Linked DNA regions of Homo sapiens: region 1 is linked to region 2. The links come from fine-mapping of genetic effects on gene expression. A gene starts in region 2. The other region holds a variant in brackets. All regions are shown on one strand. Distances are from middle to middle. Region 1 has its middle 31 kb from the start of SESN2. Region 2 holds the start of GMEB1 (glucocorticoid modulatory element binding protein 1).

The links.
Region 1: its variant is fine-mapped to the expression of GMEB1 in CD4 T cells (BLUEPRINT, PIP 0.95).

The regions. Positions count from the first base shown.
Region 1 is chr1:28,283,817-28,296,916 of GRCh38, reverse strand. No RefSeq gene overlaps it. Among named protein-coding and RNA genes, the nearest start is that of SESN2, 31 kb to the right of the region's middle. RefSeq lists an enhancer at 6,015-7,009. The variant TA/A (reference allele first, on the strand shown) is at 4,526.
Region 2 is chr1:28,660,465-28,676,986 of GRCh38, reverse strand. It overlaps GMEB1 (glucocorticoid modulatory element binding protein 1), which reads right to left and starts at 8,203. Exons shown (of 10, transcript NM_001319674.2): 1 at 8,148-8,203. RefSeq lists enhancers at 4,945-5,463, 6,962-7,021, 7,072-7,121 and silencers at 7,652-7,941, 7,952-8,061, 8,092-8,231.

The DNA.
Region 1 (13,100 bases), 380 kb after region 2:
TGGGCTGTAAATCCTGGATCTTGGGCAGCCCAAAGGTCTCTGTTTGCGCTGACCCAGACAACAGCTGGAACTCCAGCCAGGGGAGATGCTGCCTGGCGGGGGAGGAGGCATGGAACGTGCGAGCCTTCCCATCCTCCCCCACACAGAGGAGTCCAAGGTCCAAGGCTACAGGTCTGCTGTCTTGAACATATTGCTCACTTTTTGGTTTCCGTGGTATTTATGTGATAAAACCAGTTGTTCTTTGTTGTGAGCCTCCTCACGTCATAACAGCCTTGTGGTAGATATTTGGGAAAAGGACCATGATGATTTGGATCCATCAAACTCAGATTGCTCCTCCTGAAAACACGTTTTTTCCCCAAAGTCTATTTGTTTTCCATTTACTAAGCAGTTGATATGTGCCAGGTGTTGTATTGAACACATTACGTGCATTATATAATTCAGAATTTCTCAAGCTCAGGGCCATTGACTTTTTGGACTGGATAACTCTGTGTTCAAAGGGACCACCCTATGCATTGGAGGATGTTTAGCAGCTTCCCTGGCCTCTACCCACTGAGATGCCAGAGGCCCCCTGTAACAGCCAAAAATGTCTCCAAACTTTGCCAAATATCCCGTGAGGACAAAATCATCCCTAAGTAAGAACCACTGATTTAACTGAATAGACATAAGGATCTTATGAACTATTATCCCTTTTCCCAGAAGAGTAAACTGAGACTAACAGAGGTGAAGTGACTCACCTAAAGTCATACAACAAATGGTAGAGCTGGAATTTGAACTCTGGCTCCAGTGCATAGGGTTTTAATCACTAGACCAATGTCAACAAGACTGTCAAAAGACTGACAATACCAAGTGTTGGCAAAGATGCAGAGCAACTGGAACTGGAGCTGGGTGCAGCGGCTCATCTCTGTAGCCCCAGCATTTTGGGAGGTCAAGGCAGGAGGATCACTGGAGCCCAAGAGGTCTAGACCAGTCTGGGCAACATAGGGAGACCCTCATCTCTACAAAAAATAAAAAATAAAAATAGCTGGGTATGTCCACATAAATAGCAGGTTTACTCATAATAGCCAAAATTGGAAACAACTCAAATGTCTATCAACTCATGAATGAATAAATGAATTGTAATATATCCATACAATAGTATTGTGCTCAGCAACAAAAAGGAATGAACTATGGATACACACGACAACATGAATTAGCTTCAAAAGCTTTATGGTAACGAAGAAGACAAACACAAAAGATTACACAATGAGGCCAGGTGTGGTGGCTCAGGCCTGTAATCCCAGCACTTTGGGAGGCCAAGGTGGGCGGATCACTTGAGCTAGGGAGGTTGAGGCTGCAGTGAGCCATGATCGTGCCACTGCACTCCAGCTTGGGCGGTGGAGTGAGACCCTGTCTCAAAAAATAAGAATAATAACAAATATTTGTTAATAGAAAATATTGCCATTTATATGTCATCATTTCTCAAGAAGTGATCACGTTATCTATGTACTTATTGTAAGTTTTTTAGGTATAATTTTTTTTTTTTTTTTGAGACAGAGTTTTGCTCTTATTGCCCAGGCTGGAGGGCAATGGCACAATCTCAGCTCACCGCAACTTCCGCCTTCTGGGTTTAAGTTATTCTCCTGCCTCAGCCTCCTGAGTGGCTGGGATTACAGGCATGTGCCACCACGCCCGGCTAATTTTTTTTTTTTTTTTTTTTTTTTTTTTTTTTTTTTTTGAGACGGAGTCTCGCTCTGTCGCCCAGGCCGGACTGCGGACTGCAGTGGCGCAATCTCGGCTCACTGCAAGCTCCGCTTCCCGGGTTCACGCCATTCTCCTGCCTCAGCCTCCCGAGTAGCTGGGACTACAGGCGCCTGCCACCGCGCCCGGCTAATTTTTTGTATTTTTAGTAGAGACGGGGTTTCACCTTGTTAGCCAGGCTGGTCTCGAACTCCCAACCTCAGGTGATCCACCCACCTTGGCCTCCCAAAGTGTGGTATAATTTTTTTTTTTTTTTTGAGATGGAGTTTCGCTGTTGTTGCCCAGGCTGGAGTGCAATGACACGATCTTGGCTCACCACAACTTCCGCCTCCTGGGTTCAAGCGATTTCTCCTGGCTCAGCCTCCCAAGTAGCTGGGATTACAGGCATGTGCCACCACACCCGGCTAATTTTATATTTTTAGTAGAGACAGGGTTTCTCCATGTTGGTCAGGCTAGTCTCAAATTCCGACTGTGATCCACCTGCCTCGGCCTCCCAAAGTGCGGTATAATTTTTTTGAAATGGAATCCTGCAACATTGCCCAGGCTTTTCTGGAACTCCTGGGGTCAGCTTCAGTTTTCCCACCTCAGCTTCCTGAGTAGTTGGGATTGCAGATGTAAACCACCACACCCGATGTGTAGGTATAATTTTTATTAATGGTCAAACTCTCTTCAGTAAATGTGTAAATTATGATTATTATAGTTCTTTTCTTCAATAGGTTACTGTCAATTTATCTAATGACCTCTGCATTCATTAGCAAACACTCCACAATGACAATATTGTCTTAAGACTAGTGAATTAATACATTTTGTTGCATTATGTTTGTGTTCTAAACTTAAAAGCTAATTTTTGAATGCAAAACTTTGTCATCTGCTAAAGAATTAAATGGATTAAGAATAACAACAAAAACAAAAACAAAACTAATTTGTAATAACAGAAAGCTGATAGTGGGTGCCTGGGGCCAGAAAGCAGGATGGGATATTCACTGCAAAGGAGCACAAGGAAATTAGATTTGGATGGTAGTTGCATAGGCGTATGCTTTTCTCAAAACTCATGGAAATGTCTGCATTTAAAATGAGTGCGTTTTGGCCGGGCACGGTGGCTCGCGCCTTTTATCCCAGCACTTTGGGAAGCTGAGGCGGGCGGATTGCCTGAGCTCAGGAGTTTGAAACCAGCCTGGGCAACATGGTATAACCCCGGCTCTACTAACAATACAAAAAATTAGCCAGACGTGGTGGCGGTCGCCTGTTAATCCCAGCTACTAGGGAGGCTGAGGCAGGAGAATCGCTTGAACTCGGGAGGCAGAGGTTGCAGTGAGCCAAGATCATGCCACTGCCCTCCAGCCTGGGTGACAGAGTGAGACTGTCTCAAAAAAAAAAAAAAAAGTGTGCATTTTATTATATGCAGATTCTACTGTATAAATTTGGTTTGAAAGGAAAAAATAAATTGCGGCAGGGAAATGCAGATTGGAGGAAGATATCAATGTGAAACAGGAAAAGAGGCTTAGAGGGTTCTTCTTTGGTTGGTCAGTGACTTTGGCTCTGAGATTTGTTTCCCCAAATTCTTACCCAGGAGCACCGGAGGCCCAGCTGAAATGCCACCACTTCTAGGAAACTTCCCTGGCTTCCCCAGCCCACAGTGTCTTCTGGGAAGAATGTTCATTCTGCATATTAATATTTAAAAATTCCTTCATCGGCAGGGTGCAGTGGCTCACGCCTGTAATCTCAGCACTTTGGGAGGCCAAGGCGGGTGGATCACTTGAGATCAGGAGTTCAAGACCAGTCTGGCCAACATGGGGAAACCCCATCTCTACTAAAAATATAAAATTAGTGGAGCATAGTGGCGCACACCTGTAATCCCAGCTACTTGGGAGGCTGAAGCTTGAGAATTGCTTGAACCTGGGAGGCGGAGGCTGCAGTGAGAGGAGATCGTGCCACTCCAGCCTTGGCGACAGAATGAGACCCTGTCTCAAAAACAAACAAACCTCCTCCATAAGTGAGTGCATTTCAGTTTATTAAATGCTTTCAGCCTATTATTTCAGCTGATTCTTTAAAAAAAAATTTATTATTATTTTTTAATTTACCACAACATGTCAGTCAACTCAGCTGATTCTTAACCACTGATCAGGTCAAAGATTCTCCCCATTTTAGAGATGGGGAAACTAACATTTTCCTTCAGGGAAAGAAGTGACTTGTTTACATCTTAAAGCCACAAATTAAGACAGTGCCTGGACTAGTACCTGGGCCTGCAGTGCTCCTTCCCTTGGAAGGCAGTGGAAGGGTGGGTGGAAAGAGCACTTTCTGGAGAGTTTAGAACTCCTGCTCATTTGCTTGGGACATGTCTGGGCAATGTTAATATTGCTAGACCTCAGCTTTCATAGCTAAAAATTGGTAAAATCCTCACTTTGCCTATGTCTCAGGATTGTGGTTAGGATTGCCTAGAACAGTCTTGGCTCATAAATAAGTGATTAAAAAAAAATATATATATATATAGGCCAGGCGCAGTGGCTCACGCCTGTAATCCCAGCACTTTGGGAGGCCAAGATGGGCGGATCACAAGGTCAGGAGATCGAGACCATCCTGGCTAACAAGGTGAAACCCCGTCTCTACTAAAAATACAAAAAATTAGCCAGGCGTGGTGGCAGGCGCCTGTAGTCCCAGCTACTAGGGAGGCTGAGGCAGGAGAATGGCATGAACCCGGGAGGTGGAGCTTGCAGTGAGCTGAGATAGTGCTACTGCACTCCAGCCTGGGCGACAGAGCAAGACTCCATCTCAAAAAAAAAAAAATATA[TA/A]TATATATATATATTTATATTTATATATGTATGTGTATATTTAGATATTGAGACATGGTCTCACTCCATCACTCAGGCTGGAGTGCAGTGGTGCAATCACAGCTCACTGCAGCCTCGACCTCCCAGGCTCAAGCGATCCTCCCACCTCAGCCCCCCAAGTAGCTGGGACTACAGGTACGTGCCTCCACCTCCAGCTAATTTTTCTATTTTTTGTAGAGTCTGGGTCTCATTCAAGACCAGGGGCTGGTCTTGAACCCCTGGGCTCAAGCGATCCTCCCACCTCAGCCTACCAAAGTGCTGGGATTACCAGTGTGAGCCACTCCACTCTGCCGCCAAAATATTTAATGACTCCTTGAACCTAAAATAAACGGGAAGAAAAAAAATGTAATGAAAACAACAAACATTTATTGAGCACTTATGCTAGCATATGGTAGACATTGGGATACAACGGTGAACATGGAGACAGGCAGGAAACAATAAAGATTATGAAACGTGTTGAAGAGAAAAGAAATGGGAAGGGGCAGGGTGAGGCTGAGAAACAGGGGTCAGGTCCGAACTCTCTGATGAGACGATGTTAAAGGTGAAACTGCAGGTTTAGAAAGAGCTTGTCTGGAGAAGAGCATTCCAGGTTGTGGGAATTCTATACTATCTTTTATCTCACAACTCCCATTTCATAGATGAGGAACCTGTGGCTTTGAATCTAAGAAAATGGTACTGACTCTGTCTTCTGCTGAAAAGAAGAACTTAACTAAACAGGCACTTTATAATCATTTTCTCTTTCTCTTTTTAAAGCCTGGCCTATGGAATCCAACATTTTCTCATTTGATTCTGACAATTTTTTTTTTTTTTAAGGCAGAGTCTCACTCTGTCTCCCAGGGCGGAGTGCAATGGTGCCATCTCAGCTCACTGCAACCTCCACCTCCCAAGTTCAAGCTATTCTCCCACCTCAGACTCCCAAGTAGCTGGGACTACAGGTGCCTGCCACCAAGTCCAGCTAATTTTTGTATTTTTAATAGAAACGGGGGTTTCACCATGTTGACCAGGCTGGTCTCAAACTCCTGACCTCAAGTGATCCACCTGCCTTAGCCTGCCAAAGTGCTGGGATTACAGGCATGAGCCACCGTGCCCAGCAATAATTTTTTTTTATGTAGATGGTAATGTTCCCATTTTATAGATGAAGAAATTAAAGGAAGTTACCAAGAGCCATACGGGTACTTGATCTTGTTTATTTAAATTCTGCCTCATTCCAGATGGCTTTGCACTCAGATTTGAGCCTCATTTGTCTGGTTCCAAAGTCCAAGCTCTTTCCCCGACACCAGACTGGTGCTGAGTATCTGAGAGCTGGCCATTTAACAGACAACCAGGCAGGGAGAGACAGCCAGAGCAGAGGCCATGTCCACAGCAGCAGGAGGCTATTGTTTCTTAAGCACTGCCACCTGGGCCCAGAACTAGCCCAGGTATCCTGGTGGATACAAGCATGTATTCCACACCTATTTCTTCAACCCCTGCTACATGTCAGGCCCTGTGCTAGGCTCTGGAGATAAATGCAGTAGAGAACATACCAGACAAAAATCCCTGCCTTCCTGGGACCCCCAATTGAATGGGGAGATGACGAAGCCACACAAATGATTATAATTTTAGAAAAAAAAATGCCTCAGAAAACAGAAGCACTTTGTAAGGGTTAAAGAAGGAAGATGGATCCTCTGGGTGGTGTTTGGGATCCACTTTAAAATGGAAATAATAGGCTGAGCACGGTGGCTCACACCTGTAATCCCAGCACTTTGGGAGGCTGAGGTGGGTGGATCGCTTGAGCTCAGGAGTTCTAGACCAGCCTGGGCAACATGGTGAAACCTGGTCTCTGCTAAAAATACAAAAATTAGCCGGGGGTGGTGGCACGTGCTTGTAATCCCAGCTACTCGGGAGGCTGAGGAAGGAGAATGGCTTGAGCCTGGAAGGCAGAGGTTGCAGTGAGCCAAGATTGCGCCACTGCACTCCAGCGTGGGTGAAAGGGCAAGACTCCATCTCAAAAAAAAAAAAAAAAAAAAAGGCCAAGTGCGATGGCTCATGCCTGTAATCCCAGCACTTTGGGAGGCCGGGGTGGGTGCATCTCACAAGGTCGGGAGTTCAAGACCAGCCTGGCCAACATAGTGAAATTCCATCTCTACTAAAAATATAAAAATTAGCCGGGCCTGGTGGCAGGCGCCTGTAGCCCCAGCTACTCGAGAGGCTGAGACAGGAGAATCACTTGAACGCGGGAGGCAGAGGTTGCAGTGAGCCGAGATCGCACCACTGCACTCCAGCCTGGGCGACAGAGCGAGCGAAACTCCATCTTAAAAAAAAAAAAAAAAAAAAGGCCAGGCCTGTAATCCCAGCAATTTGGGAGGCTGAGGCAGGCGGATTACCTTAGGTCGGGAGTTCGAGACCAGCCTGACCAACATGGAGAAACCCATCTCTACTAAAAATACAAAATTAGCTGGGTGTGTTGGCACATGCCTGTAATCCCAGCTACTTGTGAGGTTGAGGCAGAAGAATCGCTTGAACCCAGGAGGCAGAGGTGGCGGTGAGCCGAGATTGTGCCATTACACTCCAGTGTGGGCAACAAGAGCGAAACTCCGTCTCAAAAAAAAAAAAAAAGAAAAAAAATGCTGGGCGTGATGGCTCATGCCTGTAATCCCAGCACTTTGGGAGGCCGAGTTGGGCAGATCACCTGAGGTCAGAAGTTTCAAGACCTGCCTGGCCAACATGGCGAAACCCCATCTCTACTGAGATACAAAAAATAGCTGGGCGTGGTGGTGGGCGTCTGTAATCCTGGTTACTTGGGAAGCTGAGGCAGGAGAATTGCTTGAACCTGGGAGGTGGAGGTTGCCGAGATCACTCCACTGCACTCCAGCCTGGGCAGCAAAGCAAGACTCCATCTGGGAAAAAAAAAAAAGGAGCTAATAGTGGGCTCTACTATCTAGTGCGGCAGTGAAAATTAAATAAGATCCTGCCGGGCTGGGTGTGGTGCCTCACGCCTGTAATCTCAGCACTTTGGGAGGAGAAAGCAGGAGGATTGCTTGAGCACAGGAGTTCAAGATCAGCCTGGGCAACATAGCAAGACCAACGTCTCTGCAAAAAATAAAATAAAAAATTAGCCAGGCATGGTAATTTGCACCTGTAATCCCAGCTACTTGGAGGCTAAGGCAGGAGGATGGCTTGAGCCCAGGAGGTCGAGGCTACGGTGAGCTGTGATGGTGCCACTGAGAGAGACCCTGTCTCAAAAAAAAAAAACTAAAACAAAAACGAAAAACATGCCTGTGATGTACTTCATGGGCTACTTGGCACAAAGAAGTTCCTAAATAAGCCTTACTACTTTCTCCACTCTTTCTTCTAATAAATACAAACTATTTTGTAATAAACAGCAAAATTTCCTTTGAAGACTTCCCATTGCCCATAGGGTAAAGTCCAAAATTCCTGATGTACCCTGTGAGGTCCTGCTAGATCTGCCCTGGGGCTTTCTTCTCAGCCTCAGCCTTTCTTATGTTCTCCCAGCTCCTTCTGTCCCTACAAGGCTGCCTTCTCCTTCCTGCTTCAAATCCTTTCCCCATGCTGTTTCCTCTGCCAGAAGTTATCTTTGCTCCATGCTCTTTTCTCCCCTCTCATCCTTGGCCGATCCTTTCTTATCCTTCAAGTCCAGGGTAGGCTGTACTTTCTCATAGCTCCCTGTGCTCTTTCTTTCCCCAGGGCTTATCACAAGAATTTGTGTGACGAGCTGGACGTGGTGGCTCACGCCTGTAATCCCAGCACTCTGGGAGGCCAAGGCAGGCAGATCACTTGAGGTCACGATCAACCTGGCCAATATGGTGAAACCCTGCCTCTACTAAAAATACAAAAAGCTAGCCGGGCGTGGTGGCACACGCCTGTAATCCCAGCTATTCAGGAGGCTGAGGTGGGAGGATCGCTTGAACCCAGGAGGCAGAGGTTGCAGTGAGAAGAGATTGTGCCACTGCCCTCAAGCCTAGGTGACAGAGTGAGACTTCATCTCAAAAAAAGAAAAAAAAGAATTTGTGTGATGTTCATTTTTCCCACTGGGGTTTATAGGCCCATGAGGACCACAGCTGTCTGTCTTATTCACTGCTGTACTGCCAGCATGAGCAGGGGCTGGGACACAATAAAGTACTTGATAATGTTGGCATGAACAAAGAAAAGAGCTTCCTGCTGGGCGCAGTGGCTCATGCCTGTAATTCCAGCACTTTGGGAGGCCGAGGTGGGTGGACCACGAGGTCAGGCATTCGAGACCAGCCTGGCCAACATGGTGAAACCCTGTCTCTACTAAAAATACAAAAATTAGCCGGGCGTGGTGGCACACGCCTGTAATCCTAGCTACTCGGGAGGCTGAGGCAGGAGAATTGCTTGAACCTGGGAGGCGGAGATTGCAGTGAGCCGAGATCATGCCACTGCACTCCAGTCTGGGTGACAGAGCAAGACTCTGTCTCAAAAAAAAAAAAAAAAAAAAAAGGGAAAGAAAAAGAAAAGAGGTTCCTTCTTGAAATGTGAGTTTGGAAACTCAGAAATGGGACAGAACTCAAAGCTCCCCACCACCACTCCAAATATAATCCAACTGTGAGGTCAGAGGTGATTCAAACATGGGCGGAAGGAATTTCTGCTGCCATCACCAGCTGAGACATGGTTTTTCTCAGGACCAGGCACATTGCACAGAGGTAGACTTGAGAGAAGATGTTGAACTCAGGCAATACTTAACCTCCCCAGAGAGGGGAATTGACTTGTCCAAGGTCTCCAGCCATTGGAGTGAGAACCTATTCTGGCCACTACAGCTGTTGCCTCTAGCCTCAGGCAGGGCAAGTCAAAGCAGGAAGTTGTAGGACTGTGGCACAGGGTGGTGACAGACTATGAAGAGGATCTGAAGGTTCAGGCTTGTGAGACCTCAGGTAGGTCATTTCCCCACTCTGGTCCTTATTTTAACCATCTGTAATAAGAGAGTGTTTTAAGTACTCTTTTAAGGAGACTGAGATGGAGATTTGCCTACAGAGGGTTTACTGGGGAATCATATTACAGGACAGTGAGAAGCATAACTGGGCAGAAGTTGGGCTGCAATGCTGCTGCAATGGAGGATTCATCTGATCCTAAGGGGTACAATAAAGCTGGGATAATCCTTCAGAGTTGTTTCAAATGGAGGCTGAGGGTCCGGGCCTCTGTACTCTTCTCTCCCATCAACCAGTCATTGGAGGCAGACTGCTGGAAGGAGGCGTAACCATGAGCTAAGTGGCTCCCTTCAACTCAGGATAGTGGCCAGAGAGAGACTCAGCTGAAATTCTTCAGCAACTTGATGGAGTGGGAGATGTGGGAAAACGAGTGCCATAGTCTGGGTAGCACATGACAGCATCCACTACAGAGGAATATGAATGAGCAGTTTTCGAACTCTGTTCCATGGAGCCCTGAGATTTCAAGAAGGTGCTTCAGTGCATGGGAAATTGCTGTTCTTGGATGTGTTGGAGCTTCTGCAAAAGTCCAACATATTTCCTTGGAAGAAAAGGCTCTCCTGCTAGGTGGTGAATGCCCTCACAGCACCTCATATTTTCCCTTTGAGGTGCCAATCAAAATTGTAATTTAAATAATTTGTCCAGGCATGGTGGTTCACGCCTGTAATCCCAGCACTTTGGGAGGCTGAAGCAGGTGGATACCTGAGGTCGGGAGTTTGAGACCAGCCTGGCCAACATAGTAAAACCCCGTCTCTACTAAAAATACAAAAATTAGCCAGGCATGGTAGCGCATGTCTGTAATCCCAGCTACTCAGGAGGCTGAAGCAGGAGAATCGCTTGAACCCAGGAGACGGAGGCTGCAGTGAGCCAAGATCACACCACTGCACTCCAGCCTGGCTGACAGAGTGAGACTCCATCTCAAAAAAATTAAAAAAAAAAATAAAAAATAATTAGTTGCATAACGGTCTAAGGTCTGTCTCTTTCACTTGACAGTAAATCCCAAGAAAGCAGGAACCATGTCTGTCTCCTTCACTGCTAAGTCTCCAGGACATGTGACACATTAGAACCATAACATCTGTTCAAAGAACTCATACCAAGGAAGCTATTAAAGATGCAGATTGCTGAGCTCTGCCTCCAACCACTGGTTCTCTAATGAGATTCTAAGGCACAAAACAGTCTGTGAACTACTTCTCTAATCCACCTGCTCTAGGGCTCTGGTGAATGTTTGCAACCTGCTGGAGGAGACTCACTTGGCTTTTTTTTTTTTGGTCGGGGAGAGAAGGAGTTTCACTCTTGTTACCCAGGCTGGAGTGCAATGGCGCGATCCCGGCTCACTGCAACCTCTGCCTCGCAGGTTCAAGCGATTCTCCTCTTTCAGCCTCCTGAAATAGCTGGGATTACAGGCATGCACCACCACATCCGGCTAATTTTTGAATTTTTGGTAGAGACAGGGTTTCACCATGTTGGTCAGGCTGGTCTCAAATTCCTGACCTCAGGTGATCCACCTGCCTTGGCTTCCCAAAGTGTTGGGATTACAGGCTTGAGCCACCATGCCCAGCCCCGGCTCCTTTTTCTACTCACTCTCACCAGTTCTCAAATCAAGCATGGTTCCAAAAGACAAAAGAATTAGCTGGGCGCAGTGTTGGGCGCCTGTAATCCCAGCTACTCAGGAGGTAAGGCAGGAGAATCACTTGAACCTGGGAGGCAGAGGTTGCAGTGAGCCAAGATCGCACCATTGCACTCCAGCCTGCGCGACAGAGTGTGACTCTGTCTAAAAACAAAAACAAAAACAAAAACAAACAAGCAAACAAAAAAAAAGAAAAAGAATTGAGCTACCGACAACCTTCTGCAAATTCCAACCTGGGTAGATGTGCACAGGTCTTGAGTTGCAGGCTACAGAAGTCTAAAATAGATTCATTAGATCCAGTCTGAAGCTGAGTTTTCAACTCCATTTGCAAATTTAACATGATTTTAAAAATATTTATTTATTTATTAGACAGAGTTTCATTCTGTCACCCAGGCTGGAGTGCAATGGCGCTGGGATTACGGGCGCCCACCACGACACCTGGCTAATTTTTGTATTTTGAGTAGAGACGGGGTTTCACCATGTTGGTCAGGCTGGTTTTGAATTCCTGACCTCAAATGATCCGCCTGCCTCGGCCTCCCAAAGTGCTGGGATTATGGGTGTCAGCCATCAGGTCCAGCCTAATAAACATGATTTTTTTTTTCTTTTTTTTGAGAGGAGTCTCCCTTTGTCGCCCAGGCTGGAGTGCAGTGGCGCAATCTTGGCTCACTGCAAGCTCCGCCTCCTGGGTTCACGCCATTCTCCTGCCTACAGGCTGGGACTGTAGTCCAGCCTACGTGGCATGCATTGAGTGTGACTGTTGCCAAATGTTTTCAAATTTAATCTCGCAATCTTCGCAACAACCGTGTGAGGAAAGGGTCTGTTCCCATTCTATAGATGTGGAAATGGAACCTCAAATGAGAATCTGGGGAACACCAATTTAACAGACAGACCCAAATTCAAATTCCAGCTTTGACATTTAATATCAGTCTGATCATGAGCAAGTTGCTTCAATACTCCCTCCTCAATTTCCTTATCTGTGGGATGGAATTAATACCTAAGGTTACAGGAGGGTTGTGAGGATTAAATAATACTGGGTAGCTGGGATTACAGGTGCCCGCCACCACGCCCGGCTAATTTTTTTTTTTTTTTTTTTTTTTTTTTTTTGTATTTTCAGTACAGTTGGGGTTTCACCGTGTTAGCCAGGATGGTCTGGATCTCCTGACCTCGTGATCCACCCGCCTTGGCCTCCCAAAGTGCTGGGATTACAGGCGTAAGCCACCGTGCCCAGCCATTATTTTTTTTTAAATGCATATTGAGGATTTAGGCACTTTGGAGACAAAAATAATGCAATACAGGGTTGGGCATGGTGGCTCATACCTGTAATCCCAGCACTTTGGGAGGCTGAGGCGGGCAGATCGCTTGAGCCCAGGAGTTCAAGACCACCCTCGGTAACATGGCAAAGGAGTTCAAGACCACCCTTGGCAACATGGGGAGGCTGGGGCAGGAGAATCACTTGAACCTGGGGAGGTTGCTGTGAACCGAGATCACACCAATGCACTCCAGCTCCATCTCAAAAAGAAAAAAAAAAAAGCAATACAAAGAACTCTGGAATCAGAATGAGAAGGATTCAAATTCTACCTCAGTCGCATGAGCTTGGGCAAATTTCTGAATCCTGAACAGCTTGCGAATGCTAGATGCCAGGTACCTGAACTGTGCTAGGTGGTTTTTATGCATTATTTAATCCTCACAACCCTCTTGTAACCTTAGGTATTAATTCCATCCCATAGATAAGGAAATTGAGGAGGGAGTATTGAAGCAACTTGCTCATGATCGGACAGACATTAAATGTCAAAGCTGGAATTTGAATTTGGGTCTGTCTGTTAAATTGGTGTTCCCCAGATTCTCATTTGAGGTTCCATTTCCACATCTATAGGATGGGAACAGACCCTTTCCTCACAGGGTTGTTGTGAAGATTGGGAGATTAAATTTGAAAACATTTGGCAACAGTCACACTCAATGCATGCCACA
Region 2 (16,522 bases):
TGCCTCCTGGGTTCAAGTGATTCTCCTGCCTCAGCCTCCAGAGTAGCTGAGATTACAGGTGCCCGCCACCATGTCTAGCTAATCTTTTTGTATTTTTAGTAGAGTCAGGGTTTCACCATCTTGGCCAGGCTGGTCTTGAACTCCACTCACCTCAGCCTCCCAAAGTGCTGAGATTACAGGCATGAGCCATGGCGCCCGGCCACTTGATGGCAATTTCATACAATATCTTTATTTGTATTTATTTATTTATTTATTTTTTTTTGAGACGGAGTCTTGCTCTGTCACCCAGGCTGGAGTGCAGCGCCCTGATCTCGGCTCACTGAAGGCTCCGCCTCCGGGTTCATGCCATTCTCCTGCCTCAGCCTCCCAAGTAGCTGAGACTACAGGCGCCTGCCACCATGCCGCCTAATTTTTTGTATTTTTAGTAGAGACAGGGTTTCACCGTGTTAGTCAGGATGGTCTCGATCTCCTGGCCTCGTGATCCACCCACCTTGGCCTCCCAAAGTGTTGGGATTACAGGCGTGAGCCACCACGCCTGGCCAATTTTATACAATATTTTTAATAATTTTGTGAATGAAACAGAGCCTGCGTTAACTACTAATCTGTGGGATTTTTTCACTTATGCCATCATGTTGGCTCAAAAATTTTCAGATTTTGGAGATTTGGGGTTTCAGATTTTCAGATTAGGGATACTCAACCTATAATACCTTAGGCAAAAAAAATGGGTTAGTTAATTGTTAAAGAAGCAGATTTAGAAGGATGCTTCTAATTTCAACTTTCTACCCTAAGCTAAGTCCCCTCTACAACATTCTGAATAGATGGTTGACTAACTTCTTAATACCTTCCTCAATAGGAACTCACATTTTACTCTTTACCCACACCATACATTAGTACCCAAGAGGAATGTTCTGGCTTCTTCTCTAGCCTTCTGAGAGTTTATCAGAGAGGATAATTATAATCATCCACAATACATCTCTCAATGTCACTCTAAGTCATGGGTCTGATTCAACATGGCAATTCTGACCTTCTTTAGAGAAGCAAGTTTGGGTTAAGTATCACTCATTACCCTAAATACCATATTCCTTGCAGGTAACCTGAAACCAACTCTAAATGCAAGGTCATCTCTAAGCTGAGTGTAAATGGAAAAGTAGCTCTTGTTTACAGCAACAAAAACTCCTGAGGCAAGATGAGTGAGTTGATCGTTCGGGGCTTTGGAGTATGCATTGTGAAATCATACAACTCTCTCTGGAATTCTTTTTTCTTTTTTTAATTTAAACTTGCTTTTCTTTTCTTTTTTTTTTTTTTTTGAGACAGAGTCTCACTCTGTTGCCCAGGCTGGAGTGCAGTGGCGGGATCTCCGCTCACTGCAACTTCTGCCTCCTGGGTTCAAGCGATTGTTGTGCCTCAGCCTTCCGAGTAGCAGCTGGGATGACATGTGCACACCACCATGCTCGGCTTTTTTTATTTTTAGTAGTGACGGGGTTTCACCACGTTGGCCAGGCTGGTGTCAGAACTCCTGGTCTCAAGTGATCTGCCCGCGCCTGTCTCCCACAGTGCTGGGATTACAGGAGTGAGCCACCCCGGCCGATCTCTCTCTGGAATTCTATGTGAACACATGTAAAAGAAATATGCCAAATTTATGTGAAATGCTTAAGAATTAACTATTGTGGGGCCGGGCGCGGTGGCTCACGCCTGTAATCCCAGCACTTTGGGAGGCCAAGGCAGGTGGATCACAAGGTCAGGAGATCAAGACCATCCTGGCTAACATGGTGAAACCTCGTCTCTACTAAAAATACAAAAAATTAGCTCAGCGTGGTAGCGCACGCCTGTAGTCCCAGCTACTTGGGAGGCTGAGGCAGGAGAATGGCGTGAACCCAGGAGGCAGAGCTTGCAGTGAGCCAAGATGGAGCCACTGCACTCCAGCCTGGACGACAGAGCAAGACTCCGTCTCAAAAAAAAAAAAAAAAAGGCCGGGCGCGGTGGCTCACGCCTGTAATCCCAGCACTTTGGGAGGCCGAGGCGGGCGGATCACGAGGTCAGGAGATCGAGACCATCCCGGCTAAAAACGGTGAAACCCCGTCTCTACTAAAAATACAAAAAATTAGCCGGGCGTAGTGGCGGGCGCCTGTAGTCCCAGCTACTTGGGAGGCTGAGGCAGGAGAATGGCGTGAACCCGGGAGGCGGAGCTTGCAGTGAGCCAAGATCCCGCCACTGCACTCCAGCCTGGGCGACAGAGCGAGACTCCGTCTCAAAAAAAAAAAAAAAAAAAAAAAAAAAAGAATTAACTATTCTGGCCGGGCACGGTGGCCCACACCTGTAATCCCAGCACTTTGGGAGGACCAGGCAGTCAGATCACCTGAGGTCGGGAGTTAAGAGACCAGCCTGACAAACATGGAGAAACCCCATCTCTACTAAAAATACAAAATTAGCCAAGCGTGGTGGCCCATGTCTGTAATCTCAGCTACTCGGGAGGCTGAGGTAGGAGAATCACTTGAGCCCAGGAGGCGGAGGTTGCAGGTGAGCCAAGATTGTGCCTTTGTACATGGGGAACAGAGGGAGACTCCGTCTCAAAAAAATAAATAAATAAATAAATAAAATTAACTGTTCCGTAGTTTTTTGGGTTTTTGTTTTCTTTCGTTTTGTTTTTTGAGACAGGGTCACCCTCTGTCACCCAGACCAGTGTGGAGTACAGTGTTTTTGGCTCACTGCAGCCCCGACCTTGGGGCCTCAAGTGATCCTCCCACCTCAGCCTCTGGAGTAGCTGGCACTATGGGTACCAACCACCAACCCTGCTCATTTCTGTTTTCCTTTTTTTCATTAACTTTTTTTTTTTTTTTCAGACGGAGTCTCGCTCTGTCACCCAGGCTGGAGTGCAATGGCAGGGTCTTGGCTCACTGCAACCTCCACCTCCCTAGTTCAAGCAATTCTGTCTCAGCCTCAGCCTCCCGAGTAGCTGGGATTACAGGTGCCCGCCACCATGCCTGGCTAATTTTTTGTATTTTTAGTAGAGACAGGGTTTCATCATGTTGGCCAGGCTGGTCTTGAACTCCTGACCTCGTGATCCACCCACCACGGCCTCCCAAAGTGCTGGGACAGGCATGAGACACCACGCCTGGCCTAATTTCTTTACTTCTTTGTAGACATGAGGTCTTGCTATGTTGCCTAGCCTGGTGTCAAACTCCTGGGCTCAAGCAATCCTCTCACCTCGGCCTCCCAAAGTGCTGAGATTAAAGACCTGAGCGACTGTGCCCAGCCTGTAGTTATTTCCAAAGACAAAAACAACACTTTGAAACTAAGCACATCGCTGCTTATATAGCCACCAGAAAACTAAACAAATGATTTCTGACCCACTCTAAATTCATTTTTGTGTGTCCTGAAAATCCAATGTCTATAATGTGGCAAGATGCTATGTTTGAATAAGGACAAGTGTCAGGCTGCACGCAGTGGCTCACGCCTGTAATCCCAGCACTTTGGGAGGCCAAGGAGGGTGGATCACAAGGTCAGGGGTTCGAGACCAGCCTGGCCAACATGGTGAAACCCCGTCTCTACTAAAAATACAAAAATTAGCCAGGCGTGGTTGTGGGTGCCTGTAATCCCAGCTACTCAGGAGGCTGAGGCAGGAGAATCGCTTGAACCCAGGAGGCGGAGGTTACAGTGAGACAAGAACGCGCCACAGCCACTGCACTCCAGCCTGGAAACTCCATCTCAAAAAAACAAACAAACGAAAAATGGACAAGTGTCACATGATTGCAGGGAAGGACATTGGAACTAGTAATGAAAAAGGAGTAATACTGGCTGGGCGCAGTGGCTCACACCTGTAATCCCAGCACTTCGGGAGGCCGAGGCAGGCGGATCACCTGAGGTGGGGAGTTCAAGACCAGCTGGCCAACATGGAGAAACCACGTCTCTACTAAAAATACAAAATTAGCCGGGCGTAGTGGCACATGCCTGTAATCCTATCTACTCGGGAAGCTGAGGCAGGAGAACCACTTGAACCCGGGAGGCAGAGGTTGCGCTGAGCCGAGATCGCGCCACTGCACTCCAGCCTGGGCAACAAGAGCAAAACTCAAAAAAAAAAAAATTATCTGGGCATGGTGGCATGTGCCTGTAGTCCCAGTACTCGGGAGGCTGAGGCAGGAGAATCACTTGAACCCAGGAGGAGGAGGTTGCAGTGAGCTGAGATTGTGCCACTGCACTCCAGCCTGGCAACAGAGCGAGACTCCGTCAAAACAAAAAAAAAAAAAAAAAAAGGAACAATATGTCACCCAGGCCAGAGTGGGGAGGGATAGCATTAGTAGATATACCTAATATAAATGACGAGTTAATGGGTGCAGCACACCAACATGGCACATGTATACATATGTAACAAACCTGCACGTTGTGCACATGTACCCTAGAACTTAAAGTATAATAACAAAAAATAATAATAATAATATTGGCACTTTCTGGGGACTTAAAAAAGTAGGCCGGGCGTGGTGGCTCAAGCCTGTAATCCCAGCACTTTGGGAGGCTGAGGCGGGCGGATCACGAGGTCAGGAGATGGAGATCATCCTGGCTAACACGGTGAAACCCCATCTCTACAAAAAATACAAAAAAAAAAAATTAGCTGGGAGTGGTGGCGGGAGAGTAGTCCCAGCTACTCGGGAGGCTGAGGAGGAGAATGGCGTGAACCCGGGAGGCGGAGCTTGCAGTGAGCCAAGATCGCGCCATTGCACTCCAGCCTGGGCGACAGAGTGAGACTCCGTCTCAAAAATAAATAAATAAATAAATAAATAAATAAATAAATAAAAATAAAAGTTAAAAAAAAAAGTAAAAATGAGTACGAGATTTTCTGAAATTTTCTAACCCCAAAATATTTATTTAATTTTTTTTTTGAGACGGAGTTTCTCTCTTGTTGCCCAGGCTGGAGTGCAATGGCACGGTCTCGGCTCACTGCAACTTCCGCCTCCCAAGTTCAAGCAATTCTCCTGCCTCCCAAGGAGCTGGGATTACAAGCATCTGCCACCACGCCCAGCTAATTTTTGTATTTTTTAGTAGAGACAGGGTTTCACCATGTTGGCCAGGTGGGTCTCAAACTCCTGACCTCAGGTGATCCGCCCGCCTCCACCTCCCAAAGTGCTGGGATTACAGGCGTGAGCTACCGCGCCCAGCCCAAAATATTTATTTATTCCACACTCTATTATAACTTTTGAAGACTGTGTAGTCGTTTTATTTTTTATATATTTATTTATTTATTTTTTAGTGAGACATAGTCTCACTCTGTCACCCAGGCCGGAGAGCAGTGGTGCGCTCTCGGCTCACTGCAACCTCGACTTCCGGAGCTCAAGCGATCCTCCCACTTAAGCCTCCAGAGTAGCTGGGACCACAGGCAACTAGCTCCACCACGCCCATCTAATTTTTGTCATTTTTTGTAGAGACGGGGTTTCACCATGTTGCCCAAGCTGGTCTGGAACTCGAGCTAAAGAGAGGCCGAGGAGGCCGCTCACTTTGGGAGGCCGCCTGTCTCGGCCTCCCACAGTGCTGGCATTACAGGCATAAATCACAGCGCCCGCCAGAAAACTAACAAAATTAGGCGGGCGCAGTGCCACGCACCTGTAGTCCCAGCTACTCAGGAGGCTGAGCTGAGAGGATCGAGTTTGCAGTGAGCTGAGATCCCGCAATGCACTCTCACCTGGGCAACAGAGGGAAACTCTGTTCCCCCAAAAAAATAAAATAAAAAAGAAATTTCCACTCTAAACTACAGTTTTGTTTAAAACGGGGGGAAAAATCCAAGTTAAAACTTTATTATTACTTGAGGCCAAAACTCCTTGATATCCCCTTTATTTCTTCTCATGCATTCAGTGGGTGATCCATAGTGCTACAAGATGTAATGAGGTCAACAAGTAAATTATGCAGAAACACTGAGGGAAGTATCCAGAGGAGGTGAAATTCTAAGTCACAGACTGGAGACTATTATGTAGATGTTTGAGGGAGCGATGGGATAAGAGTTATTTGGAGTCATCCCGCTACAGTCCGGTGGACTTTGGCTTAGGGCAAGACCAAAATACTGCCCCCACAATAAACCCAATGAAGCTGAGTAGAAGCTACCTATACAATGTATTTGCTGAAGTAAATAGGAACCCAAAAAAAATCATTTAAGTAAGATATTAAATATACATCCTTGATATAAGGCTCTCAAATTAGGAGACGGTGCAACCATTGAATAAGTTTCCCCCGCCGGGCGCAGTGGCTCACGCCTGTAATACCAGCACTTTAGGAGGCCAACGCGGGCGAATCACAAGGTCAGGAGATCGAAACCATCCTGGCTAACATGGTGAAACCCCGTCTCTACTAAAAACACAAAAAAATTAGCCTGGTTGGGCCAGGCGCAGTGATTCACGCCTGTAATCCCAGTACTCTGGGAGGCTGAGGATGTGGGATCACCTGAGGTTGGGAGTTCGAGACCAGCCTGGCCAACATGGTGAAACCCCGTCTCTATTAAAAATACAAAAATTAGCTGGGTGTGGTGGCGGGCGCCTGTAGCCCCAGCTACTCGGGAGGGTGAGGCAGGAGAATCGCTTGAACCCAAGAGGCGGAGGTTGCAGTGAGCTGAGATCGCGCCATTGCACTCCAGTCTGGGCAACAGGAGTGAAACTCCGTCTCAAACAACAACAACAACAACAACAAAATTGGCTGGTGTGGTGGCACGCGCCTGTAGTCCCAGCTACTCGGGAGGCTGAGGCAGGAGAATCGTTTGAACCCAGGAGGCGGAAGTTGCAGTGAGCCACCACTCCAGCCTGGGCGATAGAGTGAGACTCCGTCTCAAAAAACAAATAAATAAATAAATAAATAAAAAGGGTCCCCAAATGCACTTTGGTAACTATTAGAAGAGGCAAGGAGGAAGAAGATAATCCCTCAAGACTAGAATTATGTCTGACAGTCTCTTTTCCTAAAACCCGTCTTGATTGGCCTAAACAGACACCAATCAAGGCCCCATCTGTGTCTACTAGGAAGTGGTTTTGAGATTTCTCTCATCTTGAGAGAATCCAGGGCTGCGCCTGCTCTGCTGTCTAGGTCAAGACTTCACCCTCTTGTCTTGTGGATCATCCTCCAAAGACCCTCGGGTTGAGATTTTGCCTTCATCTCTCCTGCCCCTCAATTAGATAACACCTGGCCAATTCCTGTCATTTCAGAAAGCGGGAACACCTTAAGCATCTTTCCTCAACGATCTCTGCTTCTCTCAAAAAGATAGGTTTCTCCATCCCCTGACCGAGCGGGTTACTTTGTTCTCCACCTAGACATCAAGAGGCACCTAGACACCTTCCATCCCCTCAGGTTTGGACGCTGCTCTTTCGTACTTCAGGAGGCTCTAGGAGTCTTCCTACCACGCGCTCATCTGTGGGGAGACCTGGGCCTGCTCACTTCCCCTTAGAGCTCCTCTTCCTTCCCTGCCTTTGGAAAAAACCTGCCCTTTTTTCCCTTGTTCTGAGTGGCCGAGGCCTCTACCGCGCCCCTCGGGATAAGCTGGACTCTGCTCTCCTCAGAAGAACCCACTCTGTACTCTTGCTCTCCCGCCAAGGCTCCGAGAGGGTCTCCTCCCAGGCGGGCATCCGGGCTTCCAGCACCTATCGTCCCCCTCCCACTGGGCAGGACCCAGGCCTCCAACCAGCTCCTCATCCAAGGGCCCGGTGCTCCCCGGACCCCGCCTTTGGGGATACCCCAGGCTCCCCGGACCCCTCGATGGGGTCCTGGGCGCCTGGCCCTCTCAGTCCGGAGTCACTCCGGCCCCTCCTGGCCCCTGAGCCGAGTACTTCCGGGCCCCTCGGTCCGGGGGCGCCGGGGCCCCCCCAGTGGTGGACTCGCCGGTTCCCGCCGCCCTGGTCTGGGGCCCGAGCCCCGGCGGCGCGGCCGGCTGCGCTGGGGGCGGCCCGGCGGCTCGGGCGGACCCAGCGGCAGCGTCCCCCCACCCCCCCGCGGCGCCGCGACGTCCGCTCGCTCCCCGGCGGCGGCGGCGGCACGCACAGGGCGTGGGGAGGCGCCCGCGGAGGCAGCAGCCCCCCGCCCCCTGCGCGCCCGCCCGCCCTCGCCGGCCGCCGCGCGGCCCCCGCGCCCGCCCCCCCGCCCCCACCCCACCCCGCGCCCGCGCGCCCACCCCTCCCCCTCCTCACCGTCTCCGTCGGGCGGGCGGGCGGCGAGCGGCCAGGGCGGGCAGGCGACGGAGCATGCGCAGAGGCCGCCACGGCAGCTACCGCCACCGCCGCCGCCAGGCCGGGCTTCAACACTTCCGGCCGCCGCCGCCGGAGAGCTGGCGCCTTAAAGGGGACGCGTCCCTATTGCCGGTCCCACCGAGGATTAACCTTAGCCAAGGGATTTGGGCCTTACCTAAGCAGAATTCTTTCGCCCTTGAAAATCAGTGTTGGAAAGGTCGCTAGAGACCCCAGTAACTCTCCTTCCCGCACTCATAGATGAGGAAAATAGGCCCTAAATGAAAGAATCACCTCAACCACAATTGAGGGCCAAGCTAGCTTTCTCGACTCCTCTGGAGGACTCTACTCCATTTACCTCCCCAAATCCTGTTTTATGAAGTTTACATCTTATCGGACCCTTCAAGTTACAATCCAGCTATCAGTTTGCAATCAGAAGATCTGCATAGATCAGTAACTGGTCACGAGTCCTTGAGCAAGCCCTAAGCATTGTCTGACCCGTGCCTGTTTGCCAAGTTTTTCCTGCTTGTGAGTTTCTGGGTTGAAGTCTTGACTCCCCTGCTGGAAGTGTAAACGACTCTGGAGGAATTTCTTGACAGCTCTAAACCTGTTTCCGATAAGACATAATGTGAGTGCTAAAGAAGGTGATACCTGCATGAAAAGTGCTTCAGAGAGTTCCTGGGGTCAGTAATAGTAATTAACAAGTATTAAGACCTTTATTTTTTATTTATTTATTTATTTTTTTAGACAGAGTCTTGCTCTTTGGCCAGGCTGGAGTGCAGTGGCGCGATCTCGGCTCACTGCAGCTTCAGCCTCCTGGGTTCAAGTGATTCTCCGGCCTCAGCCTCCCGAAGAGCTGGCACTAGAGGCGCGCGACACCACGCCCGGCAATTTTTTTTTTTTTTTGTATTTTAGTAAAGACAGGATTTCACCATGTTGGCCAGGATGGTCTCAATATCTGACCTCATGATCCACCCGCCTGGGCCTCCCAAAGAGCTGGGATTACAGGCGTGAGCCACCGCGCCCGGCCGTATTAAGACCTTTCTATGGCCAGGTGTGGTGGCTTACGCCTGTAATCCCACACTTTGGGAAGCCGAGGCGGACAGATCACTTGAGACCAGGAGTTCGAGACCAGCCTGGGCAACATGGTGAAACCCCGTCTCTACTAAAAATACAGAAATTAGCCGGGCGTCGTGGCACGCGCCTCTAGTCCCAGCTACTCAGAAGGCTGAGCCAGGAGAATCACTTGAACCCGGGAGGCGGAGGTTGCAGTGAGCCGAGATCAGGCCATTGCACTCCAGCCTGGGCAACAGAGTGAGACTCTATCTCAAAAAACAAACAAACAAAAAGACCTTTCTATGGCCTATGGCTTGGTGAAGATGCTTCTGTCTTGTATAATCCTCACAGCAACCCTACTAAGTAAGTTTCTCTTTTTTTTTTTTTTTGAGACGGAGTCTTGCTCTGTCGCCCAGGCCGGAGTGCAGTGGCGCAATCTCGGCTCACTGCAAGCTCCGCCTCCTGGGTTCACACCATTCTCCTGCCTCAGTCTCCTCAGTAGCTAGGACTACAGGCGTCCGCCACTACGCCTGGCTAATTTTTTTGTATTTTTTAGTAGAGACAGGGTTTCACCGTCTTAGCTAGGATGGTCTCGATCTCCTGACCTTGTGATCCGTCCGCCTCAGCCTCCCAAAGTGTTGAATTACAGGCGTGAGCCACCGCGCCCGGCCCTTCTTTTCTTTTCTTTCTTTTTTTCTTTTTTTTGGTGGGGGGGACCGGTCTGGGTTGATCTCCCAGGCTGAGTGCAGTGGCGGGATCTCGGCTCACTGCAGCCCCAGCCTCCAGTGCTCAAGCAGTCCTCCTGCCTCAGCCCCCGGAGTAGCTGGGACCACAAGCAGGAACCACCATGCCTGGCTAATTTTTACATTTTTAGTAGAAATGGGGTTTTACCATGTTGCCCACTCTGGTCTCTAACTCCTGGGCTCAAGCAATCCTCCTGCCTTGGCCTCCCAAAGTGCTGGGATTACAGGTGTGAGCCACCATAATTGTTTGTTTATTGATTGATTGATTTGGAGACGGAGTCTCGGTCTGTGCAGTGGTGCGATCTTGGCTGCCTCCCAGGTTAAAGCGATTCTCCTGCCTCAGCCTCCCGAGTAGCTGGGACTACAAGCACGAGCCACCACGCCTGGTTAATTTTTTGTATTTTTAGTAGAGACGGGGTTTCACCGTGTTGGCCAGGATGATCTCGATCTCTTGACCTCATGATCTGCTGCCTTGGCCTCCCAAAGTGCTGGGATTACAGGCATGAGCCATCGCGCCCAGCCAATTTTTGTATTTCTGGTAGAGACAGGGTTTCACCATGTTGGCCAGGATGGTCTCAATCTCTTGACCTCGTGATCCTCCTGCCTCAGTCTCCCAAAGTGCTGGCATTACAGGCGTGAGCCACCGTGCCTGGCCATTTATTTTTATTTAGTTATTTTGGAGGATAGAGTCTCCTCCTGGGCACAAGTGATCCTCCAATCTTGACTTCCCGAGTAGCTGAGACTATAGGCTTGCACAACCACGCCCAGCTCCTTTTTGTATTTTTCATAGAGCTGGGGTTTCACCATGTTACCAAGGCTGGTCTCAAATTCCTGAGCTCAAGTGATCCACCCACCTCGGCCTCCCAAAGTGCTGGAATTATAGTCGTGGGCCACCGTGCCTGGATGATAACTGATTTTTTTTTTTTTTTTTTTGAGATGGGGTCTCGCTCTGTCGCCAGGCTGGAGTGCAGTGGCCCTACAATCTCAGCTCACTGCAGCCTCTACCTTCTGAGTTCAAGGGATTCTCCTGCCTCAGCCTCCTGAGTAGCAGGGATTACAGGCATGTGCTGCCACACCTGACTAATTTTTGTATTTTTGGTAGAGACGGGGTTTCACTATGTTGGCCAGGCTGGCCCCAAACTCATGACCTTAGGTGACCCACCCGCCTCGGTCTCCCAAAGTGCTGGGATTACAGGCCACTGTTCCTGGCCTATAACTGATATTTTTTTTTTTTTGAGACAGAGTCTCACTCTTGTCACTCAGGCTCGAGTGCAGTGGTGCCATCTCGGCTCACTGCAACCTCTGACTCCTGAGTTCAAGTGATTCTCCTGCCTCAGCCCCGGAAGTAGCTGGGATTACAGGTCCCCACCACCACACCTGGCTAATTTTTGTATTTTTAGCAGAGACGTCGTTTCACCGTGTTGGGCAGGTTGGTCTCAAACTCCTAACCTCCGGTGATCTGCCTGGAGCCACCACTTCTGGCAACTGATTTTTTAAAAGACAAAAACTTCAAGCATCATCTGGTCTCTCCTCCAGCCTGGAACAGTGTCTCTGGCTGTCCACCGACTCTCCATACTCCACATGCCCACAACTGAATTTGTTTCTTTCCCCACCCACCTTAGATGTCTTCAACAAACCTGCTTCTGTCCTAGTGTCCCCCACCTCAGGGAATGTTGCCCTCATCTCTCAGTCACCTCCCAAAGACCCCTAGAATATCATCTCTTCTCTAACCCCCACTGGTCCAGATCATCATCATCTGCCTCTGTCACAGCCAGTGCCTCCTAATTGGTCTCCCTACTTCCTGTCTTGCTGCCTTTGAGTCTTCATTCTTAATTCTTTTAGTGGCCTCCTATCCCCTTTAAAAAAAATTGCTTGTGAACTCCCCATCATGGTCTATAGGACCTGGCACTGGGATCCTTTCTTTACTTTCTTTCTTTCTTTTTTTTTTTTCGAGACGGAGCCTTACTCTGTCACCCAGGCTGGAGTGCAGTGGCGCAATCTCGGCTCACTGCAACTTCTGCCTCCCAAGTTCAAGTGATTCTCCCACCTCATTCTCCCAAGTAGCTGGGACTACAGGCACATGCCACCACACCTGGCTAATTTTTATATTTTTAGTAGAGATGGGGTTTCACCACGTTGGCCAGGCTGGTCTCGAACTCCACCTCAGCTTCCCAAAGTGCTGGGATTACGGATGTGAGCCACTGCGCCTGGCCTTGACTTGCCTTCTTTCTGTCTCTCTAGTCCAGCCACACTGGCCTTCCTAAAGTTCCTCCAACACATGGATTTCACAGCCTTTCCCTGTTTCGCCAGGCCAGGCACCCTCTTCCTCTGGATCTTCAGCTGCCTCCTTTGCATCTCCCAGGTCCCAGCTCCTCAGCGTGGTCTTCGCTGTTCTCATTGTCTCAAGCTGTGCCTTCTCCCCAGACACTCTTACCTCCTTTATAGCCCTTACCCATTCCTGACATATCTTGTCCCCGTCTGTATCTACAGTTCCCTCCCCTCCCCTCCATACATATATACCCTGCAATGGAACCTCTGTGAAAGCAGGGACAAACTCGATTTTATTCATGGTAGGACTCCCCCAGCTCCTAGAATATTGCTTGATACCTAGAGAGCACTCAAAAAATATTTGAAAGCCTATTAAGGACTGCCTGTGTTTTTGTATCTACTTCCCCACCCCCCACAGCTTACCCCACCCTTCTGCATCCACATTCTCAGAAGCCAGAAGCCACTAACAGATGGAGAGTGAATCAGAAAAGGAGGCAGAGAGAGAAAGGGAGGAAATTCTGCCAGTTGGTGCAAAAAAAAAAAAAAAAAAAGACTAGGATGAATCTAGATGCAGCAGTCAGGTGTATCACCTCCTGCTCCACCCCACCGCACCCCTACCCTCACCCAGGGTCCACCACCGCAACCAAAACAAAAGGCAAGGCCGGTTGCGGAGACTCACAGCTGTAATCCCAGCACTTTGGGAGGCCAAGGCGGGTGAATGGCTTGAGTCCAGGAGTTTAAGGCTGCAGTGAGCCATGATCAGGCCACTGCACTCCAGCCTACATGACTCTGTCTCGAAACAACAACAACAACAATAACAAACCTTCCACTGACACTTACCACCCACTCACCTTACAGAACTCAGAGCCCAGTCGGTGCTGCCTCCCTTGTCGTAGGACCTTCATTCCTTTGTTAAGGCTCTCTCTGGGCCTCAGTCTACTTATCTGTGATGGTGACCATTATGCAACTAAACTTAAGCCTGATGAGACAGAAATAATTTGATAAAGGCTTATTGGAAGGCAAATGTGAGAATTGACCCAGGAAGACACACCAGCAGAGTTGGGCATGTTCCCGAGTCTGTCCCAAGGACAAAGGTTTTTACAGGAAAGTTTAAAACAAGGGCGTGGGGTCCTCATACCAGAATTGTCCTCTTTTTTTCTTCCTTTTCTTTTTTTTTTTTTTTTTTTTGAGACGGAGTTTCGCTCTTGCCCAGGCTGGAGTGCAATGGCGTGATATCGGCTCACCAAAACCTCCACCTCCCAGGTTCAAGTGATTCTCCTGCCTTAGCCTCCTGAGTAGCTGGAATTACATGCATGCACCACCATGCCCGGCTAATTTTGTATATTTAGTAGAGATGGGGTTTCTCCATGTTGGTCAGGCTGGTCTCGAACTCCCGACCTCAGGTGATCCACCTGCCTTGGCCTCCCAAAATGCTGGGATTACAGGCGTGAGCCACCGTGCTCGGCCTTTTTTTTTTTTTTTGAGACGGAGTCTCATTCTGTTGCCCAGGCTGGAGTGCAGTGGCGCGATCTCAGCTCACTACAACCTCTGCCTCCCAGGTTCAAGCGATTCTCCTGCCTCAGCCTCCCAAGTAGCTGGGACTACAGGTGCATGCCACCATGCCGGGCTAATTTTTTGTATTTTTAGTACAGACAGAGTTGCACCGTGTTAGCCAGGATGGTCTCGATCTCCTGATCCACCCGCCTTGGCCTCCCAAAATGCTGGGATTACAGGTGTGAGCCACCGCGCCTGGCTTTTTTTCTTTTTTTTAGAGACAGGGTCGGTCGGGCGCGGTGTCTCACACCTGTAATCCCAGCACTTTGGGAGGCCAAGGCGGGCAGATCATGAGGTCAGGAGATCAAGACCATCCTGGCTAACACGGTGAAACCCCACCTCTACTAAAAATACAAAAAGTTAGCTGGGCGTGGTGGCGGGCGCCTGTAGTCCCAGCTACTGGGGAAGCTGAGGCAGGAGAATGGCGTGAACCCGGGAGGCGGAGCTTGCAGTGAGCCCAGATCGCGCCACTGCACTCCAGCCTGGGTGACAGCTAGACTCCGTCTCAAAAAAAAAAAAAAAGAGACAGGGTCTCACTTCGCTGCTCAGGGTAGAGTACAATGGTGCAATCATAATTCACTATAGCCTGGAACTCCTGGGCTCAAGGGATCCTCCAACCTCAGCCTCCAGAGGTGCGCTTCAGTTAATCTTAAAAAAAAAATAAATCAGCGTCCCATTTAGTGTCCCACAGGTTACACATTGATCAGTACAACAATTTGAGAAATTTACAATGAGATTTTTTGCTAGTATGTTCCTATTGTTCTGTACAAAAAAGAAAAAAACGGAATCTTTTTTTTTTTTTGAGACAAAGTCTCACTCTGTTGCCCAAGCTGGAGCACAGTGCAACCTCCACCTCCCGTTTTCAAGCGATTCTTCTGCCTCAGCCTCCTGAGTAGCTAGGACTACAGGCACGCGCCACCATGTCCAGCTAATTTTTTTATTTTTAGTAAAGACAGGGTTTCACTATGTTGGCCAGGCTGGTCTTGAACTCCTAGCATCAAACGATCCGCTCTCCTCAGCCTCCCAAAGTGCTGGGATTACAGGCGTGAGCCACCACACCTGGCCTGAAAAAACAGATTCTTTTTGTTTTTTCTGAGACAGAGTCTCATTCTGTCACCCAGGCTGGAGTGCAGTGGCACCATTTTGGCTCACTGCAACCTCCATCTCCTGGGTTCAATCGATTCTCCTGCCTCAGCCTCTTGAATAGCTGGGACTACAGGCCCTCGCCACCGCACCCGGCTAATTTTTGTATTTTTAGTAGAGACGGGGTTTCACCATGTTGTCCAAGCTGGTCTTGAACTCCTGACCTGAGGTGATACACCTACCTCGGCCTCCCAAAGTCCTGGGATTATAGGCGTAAGCCACCGAGCCCAGGCGAAAACAGATTCTTTACTGGGAGACAGAATGTCACCATTGTGTCATAAGACTTCTCCAAGGTGGTTTAATTTGGAATCCTGCTTACTTTCAAAAGTGAGCTGAGGGTTATCAAATAATAACTACATTTATGAGCACTTCTGCTCTACCAGGCATGATGTGGACACTTGGCATAAGCACTGTTGGCTCATTAGCGTGTAAGCTCCCTGAGCCAGTGACCACCTCCCAGCTCAGTGTCAGGGATATCACAGGCACACCCAAAATCTTACTCTTCAATATCTTTCCTTTTAAATTATTTCATTTTTAAATTAACTTTTAATTTTTTATTGTGATAAAATAGACATTACATAAAGTTTACCATTTTAACATTTTTTTTGAGACAGAGTCTCGCTCTGTCACCCAGGCCACAGTGCAGTGGTGCAATCTTGGCTCACTGCAACCTCCGCCTCCCAGGTTCAAGCAATTCTCCCATTTCAGCCTCCAGAATAGCTACTCCAGAGTAGTAGGACTGCTGGCGTGCACCACCACACCCAGCAAATTTTTGTATTTTTAGTAGAGGCGTTGTTTCGCCATGTTGTCCAGGCTGGTCTCAAGCTCATGACCTCAAGTGATCTACCCGCGTCGGCCTCCCAGAGTGCTGGGATTACAGGCATGAGCCACTGTGCCTAGCCAGAATTTGACTGTGCTAAGTGCTTCCTATAAGTAGTATTGTACAATATTTGTCCTTTTGAGTCTGGTTTATTTAACCTGGCATAATGTGTTCAAAGTTAATTCATGCTATGGCATGTTTCAGTACTTCATTCCTTTTTATGACCAAATAATATTTCCATTGTATAGACATCCATTGATTTGGTGTATCCATTTATCCTTTGATGGACATTTGAATTGTTTATACTTTTTGGCTATTGTGAGTAATGCTGCTATGATGCTATGAACGAGGGTGTACGAATATCTGTTCAAGTTCCTGGTTTCAATTATTTTGCGTCTATACCCCGAAGAGGAATTGCTGGATCACATGTTTATTCTGTGTTTCTTTGTTTATTTATTTATTTATTTTTGAGATGGAGTTTTCCTCTTGTTGCCCAGGCCAGAGTGCAGTGGCACGATCTCAGCTCACTACAACCTCCACCTCCTGGGTTCAAATGATTCTTCTGCCTCAGCCTCCTGAGTAGCTGAGATTACAGGCGTGCACCACCACGCCCAGCTAATTTTTTGTATTTTTAGTAGATTCAGGGTATCCTCATGTTGGCCAGGCTCGTCTCGAACTCCTGACCTCAGGTGATATACCCACCTCGGCCTCCCAAAGTGCAGGGATTACAGGTGTGAGCCACCGCACCCTGCCCT